Homo sapiens: one gene and its partners. The protein of the gene in region 3 interacts with the protein of the main gene of each other region in a pairwise test. Each region holds a gene or a part of one and is shown on either strand. Other genes may lie near its edges. The genes, in order: TLCD4, TMEM82, CYP4F2 and ZDHHC15.

The links.
Region 1: the proteins of CYP4F2 (region 3) and TLCD4 interact in binary tests that used the Homo sapiens proteins (3 or more experiments, as listed by UniProt).
Region 2: the proteins of CYP4F2 (region 3) and TMEM82 interact in a two-hybrid assay, tested with the Homo sapiens proteins (one large-scale study listed by BioGRID).
Region 4: the proteins of CYP4F2 (region 3) and ZDHHC15 interact in binary tests that used the Homo sapiens proteins (3 or more experiments, as listed by UniProt).

What each region holds. Positions count from the first base shown.
Region 1 is NC_000001.11:95,141,316-95,145,044, reverse strand, and holds part of TLCD4 (TLC domain-containing protein 4), read right to left. Parts: intron 1,155-3,729; 5' UTR 1,144-1,154; coding exon 989-1,143; intron 1-988. Other genes in the region: TLCD4-RWDD3 (TMEM56-RWDD3 protein), read right to left, coding at 989-1,143.
Region 2 is NC_000001.11:15,741,016-15,745,331, reverse strand, and holds the start of TMEM82 (transmembrane protein 82), read right to left. Parts: upstream 2,834-4,316; 5' UTR 2,773-2,833; coding exon 2,685-2,772; intron 2,498-2,684; coding exon 2,425-2,497; intron 2,313-2,424; coding exon 2,138-2,312; intron 1,173-2,137; coding exon 752-1,172; intron 1-751.
Region 3 is NC_000019.10:15,891,517-15,895,245, forward strand, and holds part of CYP4F2 (cytochrome P450 4F2 precursor), read right to left. Parts: intron 1,067-3,729; coding exon 1,013-1,066; intron 921-1,012; coding exon 793-920; intron 1-792. UniProt on the Homo sapiens protein: A cytochrome P450 monooxygenase involved in the metabolism of various endogenous substrates, including fatty acids, eicosanoids and vitamins.
Region 4 is NC_000023.11:75,432,399-75,436,127, forward strand, and holds part of ZDHHC15 (palmitoyltransferase ZDHHC15), read right to left. Parts: intron 1-3,729. UniProt on the Homo sapiens protein: Palmitoyltransferase that catalyzes the addition of palmitate onto various protein substrates.

The DNA of each region.
Region 1 (3,729 bases), on a different chromosome or scaffold from region 3:
AGATTAATAAGTTGTACACACACAAAAAAATTGCAACCAACTTTTTAAAACTCTGGCAGGGTGCAGTGGCTCATGCCTGTAATCCCAGCACTTTGGGAGGGCAAGGTGGGTGGATCACCTGAGGTCAGGAGTTCAAGACCAGCCTGGCCAACCTAGTGAAACCCTGTCTCTACTAAAAACACAAAAATTAGCTTGGCATGGTGGCGCATGCCTGTAATCCCAGCTACTCAGGAAGCTGAGGCAGGAGAATCACTGGAACCTGGGAGGCAGAGGTTGCAGCGAGCCAAGATTTCACCACTGCACTCCAGCCTGGGCGACAGAACGGGACTCTGTCTCAAAAAAATAAATAAACAAATAAAATAAAAATAAAAAATAAAACTCCAGCAGATTTCTATATCAATAGATGTCTAATTCTTTCTCCATTTACTTTTCTGTTTAAAAAAAAAAAACTAAAAAGAAATTTTTACTTTAAAATTATATAACAAAATAATAAATGCTGGAGGGCTCTAAATTATAATGCAAAGTTCATTAAAAGATTCATATGCACTGACTGTACACTTTGTTCCCTGATGTGTAGAGTCTAACTGCCCCAGGTCTGGCTAAGTTGGCCAATGCTGTATGGTATAAGCTACTCAAAAGTACAACTAATTTTTTCTTCCATCTTTGTTTCCAAAGAATATGTTTGTTATAAATATTTCAAAGAAGAACACGAAAGTACTAGTATTCATCCACAGTCAGCTGGAGTCTACTTCATCTTCACACACTTCCTCAGAAACTTAAGTAAATTTCTCCTAACATCTTTCAATATATGAATTCTTAAACTTTTTTTTGCATGAGATCATCTACTTGTTTTTCCTTTTATTTCTAAGATCAAATAAAAATTTGGCCTTACATTAGATCCTAAATGAAATACTTTTTTGAAATATTTTAAATAATTTTATCTCATAAACTAGTTTCTTGTCATCAATTACATTTTCATATGCTTTACCTTGAGTTCCATTCAATCTTCTTTTTGAAGCTGAGACTATTGAAACCTGGAGAAACTTTTGCTGAAAACCAGTAACTTACAAAGTAGAAAAGAAGCTGAAAGGTGAAAAAGCTGATACAGGTAACACTGATGAGCAGTTTTGTGTTGATCTCCATATTTCTTCAACCTGTTAAGATAAATGACAGCTATAAATTGTTGTCTCATAATAAACCTAGAGTAATTTTTTTATTTTAAGAAATATGTCTTGTAATTTTAGTAATTTTTAAAATTTAGAACAAATGTTAAGAATATAAACTATAAGAATTTTTGACCTTTTGTATATTTCTTCACCTTTACCATCTATTTGTCATGTATCTTATGTCTGTTTTATCTTAAAGATCTCAATATTAGAGGTGTCATTTATAATTTTAACATCATGATATTCAAAATTATCTAAGTCTTAATATTAACAGAGAATTTCAAGTACTATAAGTAAAAACTATTCTTCTAATAATATTTCAATTAAATTTATGACAAATCGATTTCTTTATCCCTCAATTTCTCATCTATGATATGAAAGAGTTGGTTACATAATTTCTAAGAAACAATCAAGCCAAAAACCATAGAACTAACACTGCCTGTAATAACAAAACAAAAAATAATTCCATAATTAAAAAACTAATTTTGGAGCAGGACAAACAACATTTAAAACAAAATTAAAATCTTAAGAAGAACACAGTCTTAGCAAAGAGCCATTGCACTGTTGAGGCAAGACAATAGGGTCTGGAGGCAGGGAACCTAAGGCCGATTCATACTGACTTCCTAGAACTAAATCAAACAGAAAAGCCCAACTTTACACACCTAACTAACAAAATAACTGGAGGTTACTCGCTTTGAAAACCCCTCCCTCACTTTTCTGAGTGGCAAATGGAAAACTGAAAGTACCTCTGATTGGTTGCTTTCCGCAACCAATCAGACGTTTACATAGGAGTATAACTTTATAACTTCATTTCAGCCTCTGATTGGTTGCTTTCCCCAACCAATCTGACTGACTGCCAGCCAAGTCTTCCTTTGCACAGAAGTGTAACTTCCCCTCCCCTCCGCCACGCCCCCAACCCCGCCTCCAGATGGAGTCTTGCTGTGTCCCCCAGGCTAGAGTGCAGTGGTGCGATAGATCTCAGCTCACTGCAACCTCCGCCTCCCGGATTCAAGCAATTCTGCTGCCTCATCATCGCGAGCGGCTGGGATTACAGGCACGCACCACCACACTCGGTTAATTTTTGTATTTTTAGTAGAGACGGGGTTTCACCATGTTGGCCAGACTGGTCTTGAACTCCTGACCTCGTGATCTGCCCACCTCAGCCTCCTAAAGTGCTGGGATTACAGGCGTGAGGCACCACAACCGGCCTAGATTGTGGGCCACTACTTCATTTGCATGGGGTGTACAACAAGTGGCCAATGGGAAACCTGTAGCAGGTATTTAAGCCCTAGAAAATTCTGTAACCGGGCTCTTGAGCCCCTATGGTAGGACCAACTCCCACCCTGTGGAGTGTACTTTCATTTTTAATAAATCGCTACTTTCATTGCTTCATTCCTTCCTTGCTTTGTGCATTTTGTCTAATTCTTTGTTCAAAATGCCAAGAACCTGAACACCCTCCACCGCTAACACCGTCACTGCACAAATGAGAATTTAACTTTTAAAACATGCTCTTCAATCACACACATTCTTGGAGCAAAAGGCCTGCAGGGCTTTGTATCCCTTATTAAAAAAAAAAAAAAAAAAAAAGATTTTTATAAAAGAGCTTCAGGTCTTAACAATCGAGTTAGCAGAAAGAATAGTACTATGCATATATGCACACTCAAAGTGTGTTTTCTATTTCATTGAGCTGAACTTTATTTGGCTCCTAAAAATCTTAGGAACATTCAGAGCAAAAAAAAAAAAAAAAAGGCACTAAGGCATTTGCTCATATCCAGCAAATACAGCATTTCTATGGCTCCATCTTTGATAAAGCTGATTCTCAAATGAAAAAGAAATAAATCAATACACATTTCCAGCTGCCTAATGCAAAGAAATAAAGTCACCTACTGAAATCAATTCACCAGAGAAAAGCCAAGTCATTGACTGCACTAGCAATAACCCCACTTCATTCCCTTCCAACCAGGATATCGTAATAAGAATCAATCTCCCACAGGGCCCCTTCCATCAGAATTCATATGTCTATAATGAATTCTTTCCTCATTCTTTGTGTGTGTGTGTGTGTGTGTGTGTGTGTGTGTGTGTGTGTACTTGGTAAAAATATTGATATTACAATTCTTCTCTATGAGACTCCATTAACTTTACTGCTCTTTTACTTCTTTTTAATTCAACATATGTTTATTGGGTATTAAAATTTTAATTTGTGGTCTTTTAGCCTAGGTTTAATATTAACCAAACAATACATAAAAGTTTTGTACATAAATTAAGCATTACCATAATTTGCTAAGTGGGATGTAAGGAGAATAATGCTTTTCTAAGATTAAAGCAAATAGGTATCTGGAGGCCAGATGGACACAAAATTGGAAAAAAAATATAATCAGTAATCAGAAGAGAATGGAGAATCTAATCTTAAATGTGAGGAGGTTTCCCCTGAAGACTTTCGTATGCTCTCTGCTGATCCTAGAGCAGAAGGTGGGCACGGGCTGCTCATTTAGTTTGTTAAAATTCAATGTATACAAAGCATTTATTTCATGAATGTTAAAAGGTGTCATAAAACATATCATAC
Region 2 (4,316 bases), on a different chromosome or scaffold from region 3:
TTAGGCTGGTCTTGAACTCCTGACCTCACGTGATTTGCCTGTCTCAGCTTCTCAAAGTGCAGGGATTATAGGCATGAGCCACTGTGCCCGGCTGACCCCTTCTCTACAAAAAATAAAATTAGCCTGGCATAGTGGTGTGTGCCTGTAATCCCCACAACTTGGGAGGCTGAGGTGGGAGAATCACTTGAGCCCAGAAGGTCAAGGCTGCGGTGAGCCATGATCGTGCCACTGCACTCTAGCCTGGGCCACCAAGCAAAACCCTATCTCAAAAAACAGAAAAGCAAAACAAAACAAAAACATAAACAAACTTGGACAGCAGCCTCTCATCAGACTTCCCCGCCTGGCTGTTGAGGGCTCTCCAACAGGCCCCTTCGAACCTGGCCAGCCTCACCCCTTCCCTGTGCCCTTGGGGTGACAGCCACACTGGACTCCTGTGGCTTGTTTGGCACGGCCATGCCCTCTCTCCCCTCTGGGCATTGGCACATGCGGTTCTCTCTGTCCAAGATTCTGTTCCCTGCCTCGCTTCTCTTAGGGATCTCCTGCTCATCCTTCAAAGCCCAATCTAAAGACTACAACCTCAGGGTGCCCACTACATGCTGCTTCTCTGCACTGCCCCCGCCACACAGCCTCTGTCCTGACCAGGCTCTCTGGGATGGCAAGAGTGAGGGCTGATGGCTCTCGGCCTCCCCGGAGCCTGACCCAGACAGAGGGATGTGCGTGGATTGAATGGAGCAGGCCCCGCAGCGCTCACCCTGCATGTAGATGACCAGCAGCGTGTAGCAGATGGTGAGCGGTGTCCAGAACCGCATGGCCTCCGAGGTGGTCAGGAAGTCCTGGTTGATGAGGGCCACAGCTGCCAGGTCACCCACGGCAAAGGCTATGGCCAGGGCACGGCCCAGCAGCTGGGGGAGGCCATGTGCATGGGCCAGCAGGCCCAGGCACACCCCACAGTAGCGCTGGCTGCTGTGCAGCTCGTAGAGGCGGCAGACGTGGCGGTGGAGGCGCCGGGCACCCAGGCCCAGCAGCGTGGCCAGCCCGAGGCTCAGCAGCAGGTTCAGCGTGCGGTGAGGGGCGCCCTCCTGCAGGAAGCTCAGGCCACAGGTCAGCCCGCAGCCCAGCGAGTACTGGCACAGCAGGTAGAGCTGCAGCCTCTCGGCGGCACCCTGGGAGCCCTGCGGGGAGTGCCGAAGAGGGGCCGAGATGTGGGGGCTGCCTCACCACAGGTGCTGCCCACCACAGGAAGCCGGAGCCTGAAGGGACCTTGGGGATGGTTCCCGAAGGGGCCACATCGGCTTCAGATGAAGCCCTAGGGGATCATCTCTCTCACCTTAATTTCAATCATATGGGTTTTGTTTTGTTTTTTTTTTTAGACAGAGTCTTGCTCTGTCACCCAGGCTGGAGTACAGTGGCTCGATCTCCGCTCACTGCAACCTCCGCCTCCTGGGTTCAAGCAATTCTCCTGCCTCAGCCTCCCAAGAAGCTGGGATTACAGGCACCCGCCACCATGCCCAGCTAATTTTTTTGTTTGTTTGTTTTTGTTTTTAGAGATGGGGTTTCTCCATGTTGGCCAGGCTGGTCTCGAAATCCTAACCTCAGGTGATCCGCCTGCCTCGGCCTCCCAAAGTGCTGGGATTACAGGCGTGAGCCACCACGCCCAGCCTTCAATCATGTCTTAGTACTTGGGGCCCATCTGTTAGCTGAAGGGTGGTGGTTCAGAGTCTCAGAGACCTGGGTCCAAAGCCTGACTCTATCTGTTGACCATAGACAAGCCACATACTCTCTGAGCCTTAGTTTCCCCATCTGTGAAATGGGGAATCAGAGCAAACCTTTACCCCTGTGGCTGTGAGGATTACGTGATGCACACGGTGCACTCGGCGCAGGGCCTGGCATTTGGGGGGCCGGATCTACAGAAACTGTCGCTCTTGTCTTCTTGGGACTGGGACTGTGTCCACTGTGAGTGTGGCCGCTTCCGCAACCAAACCCAAAGGTGCAACCTGCAGCCTCTGTTCTCAGTCTTACGGAAAATACGGCGAAGAGGCTGGGATGCTGGACCTGGGCCCTGCTGCCCACATTCCGGGGGTGAGCCCGGGCCCTGGGCTGGGGAGTGATCCACCCACTGCCTTCCCGGAGGCCTCACCTTGCCCAGGGACAGCAGCGTGGACACGGCCCGGAGGGAGAACTCGAGCACCACGAGGGCAGCCACCCGGGACCCCACGACCGTCAGAAACAGGGCCAGCCCTGCCAGGTGCACCGTTTCCAGGGAGGCCCACTGGGCCCGAAGCCGCTCCTTTTCGGGTCGCCGCTGCGGGTCACTTTGGGGACAGAATGGGTGTGGGCAGGGGTGCAGAACTGCCACCTTCGACCCCTGGTGGGGGTCCCCGTGCCCCCAGCCACATTCCCTGGGGGGATGAGGTGGGCACTCACTTGGCACAGCCCACGAAGAAGTAAACTTTCAGGAGGCTGTTCAGGACCAAGACTCCAAGGGCCCCGATCAGGCCTGAGGGGGCGGGAGGGAGGCAGCGAGGCAGCGTGCAGGGGTGTTAGGAGGGCAGGCTTCATTGGTAGGGTCAGAGGGGGCGGCCAAGGGGCAGGGGTGTCGGGAGACCAGGTGGGTGGGGTCCACCCTGCACTGCAAAGAGCTGGAAGGGGGCGGGGCCAAGGCAGGAATGGGGCGAGGTGCTCACCTTGCAGGAGGGAGTCAAGGAGGCTAGAGCCCCACTCGAGGGAGGGGAGGCCGGGGAGCCAGGAGGGGAGGGATGGAAGAGAGAACATGGCAGCCCCGGAAGGAGCCCCAGCCTCCGGCCAGGTCTGCGTAAGGACAGACCAACGTCACTGGGCAAAGGTGTCGGTGGAGGGAAGGAGAGAGGCTGGGAGGGGTCAAAGGCCCAGGGGAGGGGAGGGGAGGAGAGCCAGGGGTGTTAACCCTTCGAGGCCCAGAAGGGCAAGGTCCCAGCTCCAGGCACACGGGGTGCCTGGAGCCAGCTGCTGCCCGGGCTCCCCATTTGGGCAGTGTGGGGTGAAGGGACAGGTGTCTCTGGGCTGGTCTCTGGTCTCTGTCCCTGCTAAAGTCTGGCATCCACTTTACTTGAAATCTTCCTTGAGGGAGGACAGGCGCAGTGGCTTACACTTGTAATCCCAGCACTTTGGGAGGCCAAGGTGGGCAGATCACAAGGTCAGGAGTTCGAGACCAGCCTGACCAATATGGTAAAACTCTGTCTCTACTAAAAATACAAAAAATTAGCCGGGCGTGGTGGCAGGCACCTGTAATCCCAGCTACTCGGGAGGCTGAGGCAGGAGAATGGCTTGAACCCAGGAGGCGGAGGTTGCAGTGAGCTGAGATCACACCATTGCACTCCAGCCTGGGCAACAGAGCAACACTCTGTCTAAAAAAAAAAAAAAAAAAAAAAAATAGCAATCTTCCTTGAGGGCTTGAACCACCCAATGCCCCTTCGAAGTCCCAGGCTCCATCTGTCCTGCCCCGCCTTAGGTGTGGGTCCTGTCCTCTTGCAGCCTGAAGTGTGGGCTCTGACCCTTCAGCCCAGGGTCTGAGAGTAGGGACTCTATCCCCCCATAGCCAGAGATCAGCTGTGCCCTCTCAGCCTGAGGTCTGGGGCTCTCTTCCCCCACAGCCAGGAGGTCAGCTCTGCCTGCTTTTTGTAAGGTCTGGTTCCAGCTTCCCAAAGCCTCCGGCTCTGACTCGGTGTGGAATCTCCTGCAGCCCGAGCCTGCCTGAGCCTTCTCCTCCCACAGGCCGGGGCCGCCCTTCCTGATGCTCCTCCCTGGGTCCACTAGGTGGCAGGCCTCACCTGGGTCCAGCAGGGCGGAGCTGAACAGGTGGACCACGGCTCCCATCCTGCTTTCACAAACAGAAAGGGCAGAGGGAGCAGAAGGTGGGGGTCAGGGATGGGGGAGACTGAGATTCACCACAGAGGAGGGTCGTTGAAGTAAACAAAATATAAAACTTTATTGGTTTGGAGTGTGCAGTAGCAGGTGTTCCTGGGAGCGGCCCTTACAGACTTGGGGTGTGGCTGGGAGGGCAGGTGGGGCTGCTCGGCAGCAGTCCTGCCCCTGCCAGGGAGTTGGCATCCATCTCTGCAGTGTGAAGGTCGGTGCGGCGCTGAGAGCACACCCACGGGGAATGGTGCTCAGTCTAGAGAAAGGCCCAGGGTCTGCTGCTGGCCCTGCCACGTCGCTTCCCTTTCCCGGGCCTCAGTCCCGGGAACAATGGGCACCTGGACTGAACAATGGGCACCCGGAGCTTCTTTCAGGCTTGTCAGGATATGTGCAAATGCCCACAGGGCGGGCAGCTGGGAGGC
Region 3 (3,729 bases):
CTGCCATATCCACACCCTTTGCAATGTGATTTTTCAGCAACTCCCATTAATAGACAGAGCCTATTTTATCCCCCTGCCTTTGATTCTGTGTTGGACTTTTGGCTTTCGATGTCAAAATACAATGTGGTGAAAATGATGAGTTAATAACTAACGAAGCTAAGCCTTGTCTTACTCCTTGGAACCCTGCCTGCATTGTGAACCATGGCGCGCCTTCTGGAAGGAGACAATCATAGGGAGGAACATCCAGGGGTCCCAGATGAGGCCAAACCTAGACACGTGAGAGAACCCAAACATGTCCCAGCCAAAACCCAAACATGTGGCAGAATTCAGTCAACACCTGCAAGGCTGCCTACCTGACCCCCAGCTGCTCATGTACCATGAGTGGTCCCTTCCATATACAGAAGAACCTGCCAACTGTCCCAAAGACTTATTAGCAAACATAAACACTTATTGGTTTAAACCAATGAGTTTTCAGGTGGTTTCTTATCAGCAACAGCTACTATGAAATTGTTGTCATGACCCTCTTGTGTTTACAGGGCTTTGGTGATGGAAACATAGAAACAGACACCTTCTGGGCACCTGCTATGCACCAGAGACGTGACTCCATTACATTACTCTGACCATCTTTTAAGTAGGGATTATTATCCCCATTTTACAGATGAGGAAACCAAGGCTCAGTGAGAAAGAGCAATGGCCCAATGGCACCCAGCAGAGCCAAAACTCCAGACTAGATCTCTCTGTTGTCCTTTCACCCCAAGGCTGCAAGTGGGACCTTGGCTTCAAATAACTCACGTGCATGATGTTCACACTCTCATTGAAAATCTTCATATAGGGCTTCAGGATGTTGAAATGGAAGGCAGGCGTCAGCATCCGACGGTGGCGGCTCCACTTGTCACCAGCACTCAGCAGGAGCCCATCCCCTAGCAGGGCAGCCAAGGGCCATGGGCAAGGACCTCTCCCTCCCCTGGCCCCCCAACGTTTTTCCCAACCCTGTTCACCTGCAGATACTCACCCAGCCAGGGCTCCAGGAAGCTGTAGAAGAACTTGTCCTTTGGTGCAATGGCAGCTGACATAAATGAGGACAATCAGGGGCCATGGAGGCAGGTGAAAGAGGGACTTTGGGGGTGGGTGGAGGCTCCCAGCAAGAGGTTTGCACTTCTCCCACTCTGAGCCCCACATAGCAGGAAGAGGGCCAAGGGCAGAGGAAGAAGGGAGGATGGGGAGGGGAGGGAAGACCAGACCAGGCTACAGCAGCACAGTACAGCAATGACACTGCCTAACATGGCGTGTAGGAGCTATGTCAGGGTTCCAGCATGCCTTGACATGCCTCCTACACGATCCAACATGTTCCGCAACCCCTGAGCACAGCTCAGCATTCTACAGAATGCTTCACAAGGACCTAGGACACCCTGTCTGTCCCAGCACTCTCTGACATCTTCTGATATGGCATCTTCTGACATGGACCTGGACATGAGACATGACCCTGACATGTGTTCACATGTCCTGACATGGCCACAAAATACATGACAATTCCTAACATGAGATGGTGTGCTCTAACATGCACATGAGATGGTCTAACATGATCTTAAAAGCGTGTTCCACATACAGGCTCTGGGTTGAATATAAATATGGTACCTTTAATGTCACAGACATAGCCAACATGTGAACCAGACTGTTCCTCAGGCATGACCCAAATATACTATAACACATGCCTCAGACAAGACTCAAATAATGTCTCAGACAGTTCACATAGGGACCCTGGGTCCCAGACCTCACACAACCCCCAGACCTCACACAACGCCCAGATGTTTGGACCACCAGGAGAAAACGGCAGTGTCAAACAGCACCTGAGACAAGAACCAAACAGGCCCTCACATGCCCCAAATGTCCTTGGCCACAGATAAGCCCCAAACTTGACCAGCTCTACATGACCCCAGTTGGAATTATATACCAGATGTAACCAGGTATAACATATTTCAGGTGTAACCAGGACCCAGGTGTAAATATACAAGGCAGACCTGGCCATATAACAGCCATTGTAGAGACACGCCCCAGACATGAGCAAACAGCAACAGAGGTTAGACAGGTGGAAGTCCAGGGGCGATGGAGGCAATGGCATCTCCACCACAGCCCCTCCTGTCTGCACATCGGTCACGTGTTCAGCTGGAGGCAGCACAGCAACCCCAGCTGTGGGCAAAGCTTGGCCAGTGCGATGTCTACCTGGAGCAAAGAGCACAGGCTTGATGCACGTGGGGAGAAAGATGTGGATGACTGCCTGCCAGGGCCCCACCCACCAGCAGCCCATATCCCCAAAGGTGCACGCCAGGCTTTGTGTGTATAGGAGACCTTCTTCTGAGCTGTGAATCTGGAGAAAAACACACAGGACCCAATTCATGCTCTCCTAGGCTGTGAGAGAGAAGGATCTGCAGGGAAGAGGTCGAAGCCCTCTCCCTGAGAATTTCAAGCAGCATCTCATCCTCCTGTCAGTGCTGAGCACCCCCTGCCTCCTCACATCCTCCATGCAGGACTCTCCAGTCCTTCAGTTACACAGACAGAAAAGGTCTTTCCCCATGTGGATCCACACACCATGTTCCCTGGGCTCTCATTCATCCCATTTTCCAGATGAAGAGCCTGAGGCTCTGAACAATAAAGTCACTTGCCCACAGTCCCAGACCACGGCAAGCCTGAGGCCTAAGACTAGGTCTGTCTGCACCCATGGCCTGAATCCTTAACCAACAAACTTCTTTGTGCCCCCAAAACAGTAGCTCTGGAAGACCCAGGCCTACCAAGACTGGGCAATCAGAGACACAGGGATTGGGTGAAAAATTGGTCCTGTGATCCAGGCCAGGAGAAGTAAACCATGGGCCATTTCTGGGAACTCTAGGGGAAAGGTGGCCTTTCCCATAAGAACTGAGCTTCTGGGACTCATCGTTGACATCATGAGGAAAAGGCCACCTTGATAGGAAAAGCGACATGGAGAAAGCTAAAGCCAAGAGAGAAAGACAGATTTCCAGTGACCTTGTGTGAGACCTGGATCCAGCCATGCCTGAAGGCCACCCTCCCTGGACTTTAAAGTCAATAGATTATCTTTCTTTGCTTAGACCACACCAGGTTGGGTTTCCACCACTCACAACTGAAAGAGACTTCAATAACCAGAGACAGCTGGGTACCAGCCCAGAGTCACTCAGCATTTTGAGGTCAGAGCCATGGTCTCTGTAGGATGCTGCCCATTCCCCCTGCTCAGCCTCGCCCGTCCAACGATGGGAAGCACAGGGGTCAAGGAAAGGGACCCAAGCTGGGGTGGAGTCTCCTCTTGGAGATCCCCGGGACCTGCAGCAGGAGAGCAACGAACTTAGGGCAGACAAGCTATAGGATGGGGTAAAGGGAATTGACCCACCAGAGGTGGACATCATGGAAGTAGCAGCCCAGATCCCCCACCAGCCACAAGTCCTCCTCATTGTTCTAGGCTTTGGGACAGGCAAGGTGATGCTAGGCCTGGCAAGGGGCCTTGAATACTAACGATGTCCAATTGCCTCACCCTGCACTCTCCTTTCAAACATTCCTACTCATTGTTCCAGACACAGCTCCAGTAACTCCTCCTCTAGGAAGCCTTCCAGCCTGCCCCAGCAGAGACCTTGTTCTTCCCTGGGCTGTGATCCATCTCCCTCTGGCCCTTTCCTGATCCCATGAAGTTGGGGATATCTCTATCCAGGTCCATCTCCTTAAAGT
Region 4 (3,729 bases), on a different chromosome or scaffold from region 3:
AACACAATAGACAGTTAATTCAGCAGAGATTTGTGTTTACTTCCACTAATGGAAGTATGTGAGTGACTAAAGTCGTGGGTATAATTGAGTCAAAGAGGAAGGGAGAAGAACATGCATATCTGGGTCCTTTTGCATATTTTAAAATATACTGTCAATGCTCCTATCCTCATTTAAGCCACATTGTCTCTTAGCTAGTTGACTGCAATATCTGTGTAATTTATCACTCTGCTTTCATACTTGCCCCTCAAAAGACCTACTATACAGAGTAGCTGGGTGATCTGTCAAAATCTACATCAGATCTGGTGTAGTGGCTCATGTCTATAATCCCAGCACTTTGAGAGACTGAGGCACAACTATCGCTTGAGACCAAGAGTTCCAGACCAGCCTGGACAACATAGTGAGACCCTGTCTCTATAAAAAAATAAAATAAAATAAATTAGCCAGGCATGGTGGTGTGCACTTGTGGCCTCAGCTACTTGGGAGGCCGAGGCGGGAGGATTGCTAGAGCCCAGGAGTTCGAGGCTGCTGTGATCCATGAATGAACCACTGTACTCCAGCCTGGGCGATAGAGCAAGATCCTGTTTCTAAAAATAAAAAAAAAAATGTAAATCAGATCATATCACTCTCCACTTAAAACTCTCAATGGATTTCCAACACCTTCAGAATAAAATCCAAACTCCTTACCATGGCCTGTATCATCTAGCCTCTGCCTATCTCTTCAAATGAATCTTGTAAAACTCTCCTCATACTATGTTCCAGTGAAACTGGCTGCCTATCTGCTCTTGTAATCAAGCTTGCTCCTGTTTCAAGGCTTTTTGTGCTTGCAGTTCCTTTTGCCTGGGATGATCATCCCTCTGCTCCTTTTGGTATGATGGTTAATTTTACTTTTTTTATTTCAATAGGTTTTTGGGGAACAGGTGGTGTTTGGTTACATGGATAAGTTGTTTAGTGGTGATTTCTGAGATTTTGGTGCACCCACCATCTAAGCCGTAAACACTGTACCCAGCATGTAGTCTGTTAACCCTTGCCACCCCCTACCCTTCCCCCTGAGTCCCCAGAGTACACTATATCATTCTTAGGCTTTTGCATCCTCATAGCTTAGCTCTCACTCATAATTGAAAACATATGATATTAGGTTTTCCACTCCTGAGTTACTTTACATAGAATAATGGTCTCCAACTCCATCCAGGTTGCTGAGAATGCCATGATTTTGTTCCCTTTTTATGGCCAAGTAGTGTATATTTTTTATGGCTGAGTAGTGTGTGTGTGTGTGTGTGTGTGTGTGTGTGTGTGTGTGTGTATATATATATATATATATATGTAACATTTTCTTTATTCACTCATTGGTTTGGGCTGGTTCCATATTTTTGTAATTTGTAATTGCAAACTGTGTTGCGATGAACATGCCTGTGCAAGTGTCTTTTTCATATAATGACTTCTTTTGCTCTGGGTAAATACCCAGGAGTGGGATTGTTGGATCAAATGACAGATCTACGTTAGTTCTTTAAGGAATCTCCATACTGTTTTCCATAGTGGTTGTAGTAGTTCATATTCCCACCAGGAGTGTAAAAGCGTTCCCTTTTCACCACATCAAAGCCAACGTTTATTATGCTTTGATTTTTAAATTACGGCCATTCTTGCAGGAATAAGGTGGTATTGCATTGTGGTTTTGACTTGCATTTCCCTGAAAATTAGTGATGTTGAGAATATTTTCACGTTTGTTGGCCATTTGTATATCTTCTTTTGAGAATTGTTTATTCAGGTCCTTAGCCCACTTTTTGATGGGATTGTTTTTTTCTTGCTGATTTGTTTGGGTTCCTTGTAGATTCTGGATATTCGTCCCTTGTCACATGCATAGTTTGTGGATAATTTTTCCCAGCCTTTGGGTTGTCTGTTTACTCTGCTATTTCTTTTCCTATGCAGAAGCTTTCTAGTTTAATTAAGTCCCATCAATTTATCTTTGTTGGTGTTGCATTTGCCTTTGGGTTCTTGGTCATGAACTATTTGCATAGGCCAATATCTAGCAAAGTTTTTCCAATGTTATCTTCTATAATGTTTATGGTTTCAGGTCTTAGATTTAAGTCTTCGATCCAACTTGAGTTCAGTAGATTTTTGTATATGGTGATAAATGAGGATCCAGTTTCATTCTTCTACATGTGGCTTGCCAATTATCCCAGCATCATTTGTTGAATAGGGTGTCTTTCCCCACTTTATGTTTTTGTTTGCTTTGTCAAAAATCAGTTAGCTGTAAGTATTTGGGCTTATTTCTGGGTTCCTATTCTGTTCCATTGGTCTATGCACCTATTTTTATACCTGTACCATGCTGCTTTGGTGACTATAGCCTTGTAGTATAGTTTGAAGTCAGGTAACGTGATGCCTCCAGATTTGTTCTTTTTGCTTACTCTTGCTTTGCCTAATGCGGGCTTTTATAGTTTCACATGAATTTTAGAATTGTTTTTTCCAGTGCTGTGAAGAATGATGGTGGTAGTTTGATGGGAATTGCATTGAATGTGTATATTGCTTTTGGCAGCATGGTCATTTTCACAATATTGATTATACCCATTCATGGGCATGGGATGTGTTTCCATTTGTTTACGTTGTCTATGATTTCTTTCAGCAGTGTTTTGTAGTTTTCCTTGTAGAGGTCTTTCATGTCCTTGGTTAGGTATATTTCTAAGTTTTGTTTGTTTGTTTGTTTTCTGCTATAGTAAAAGTAGTGGAGTTCTTGATTTGATTCTCAGCTTGGTTGCTGTTGGTGTATAGCACTGCTACTGATTTGTATACATTAATTTTGTAACGTGAAATTTTATTGAATTCATTGATCAGATCCAGGAGCTTTTTGGAAGAGTCTTTAGGGTTTTCTAGGTATATGATCACATTATCAGCAAACAGTGACTGTTTGACTTCCTCTTTATTCATTTGGATGTCCTTTATTTCTTTCTCTTGTCTGATCACTCTGGCTAGGACTTCCAGTACTATGTTGAATAGAAATGGTGAAAGTGGGCATCTTTGTCTTGTTCCAGTTCTCAGGAACAATGCTTTCAACTTTTCCCCATTCAGTATAATTTAGCTGTGGGTTTGTCATAGATGGCTTTTATTACCTTAACATATTTCCCTTCTATGCTGATTTTGCTGAGGATTTTAATCATAAAGGGATGCTGGATTTTGTCAAATGTTTTTTCTGCGTCTATTGAGATGATCATGTGATTTTTGTTTTTACTTATGTTTATGTGGTGTACCACATTTATTGACTTGCCTGTGTTAAACCAACCCTGAATCCATGGTATGAAACCCACATGATGATGATGGATTATGTTTTTGATATGCTGTTGAATTCGGTTAGCTAGTATTTTGTTGAGGATTTCTGCATCTATATTCATTAGGAATATTGGTCTGCAGTTTTCTTTTTTAGCTATGTTCTTTCCTGGTTTTTGGTACTAGGGTAATATTGGCTTCATAGAATAATTTAGGAAGGATTCCCTCTTTCTCTGTCTTTTGGAATAGTTTCAGTAGGAGTGGTACCAATTCTTCTTTGAGTGTCTGATAGAATTCAGCTGTGAATCCATCTGGCCCTGGACTTTTTTTTGTTGGCAATTTTTTTATTACCATTTTAATCTTGCTGCTTGTTACTGGCCTCTTCAGAGTTCCCATTTCTTTCTGGTTTAATCTAGCACAGTTGTATATTTGCAGGAATTTATCCATCTCCTCTAAATTTTCTAGTTTGTGCCC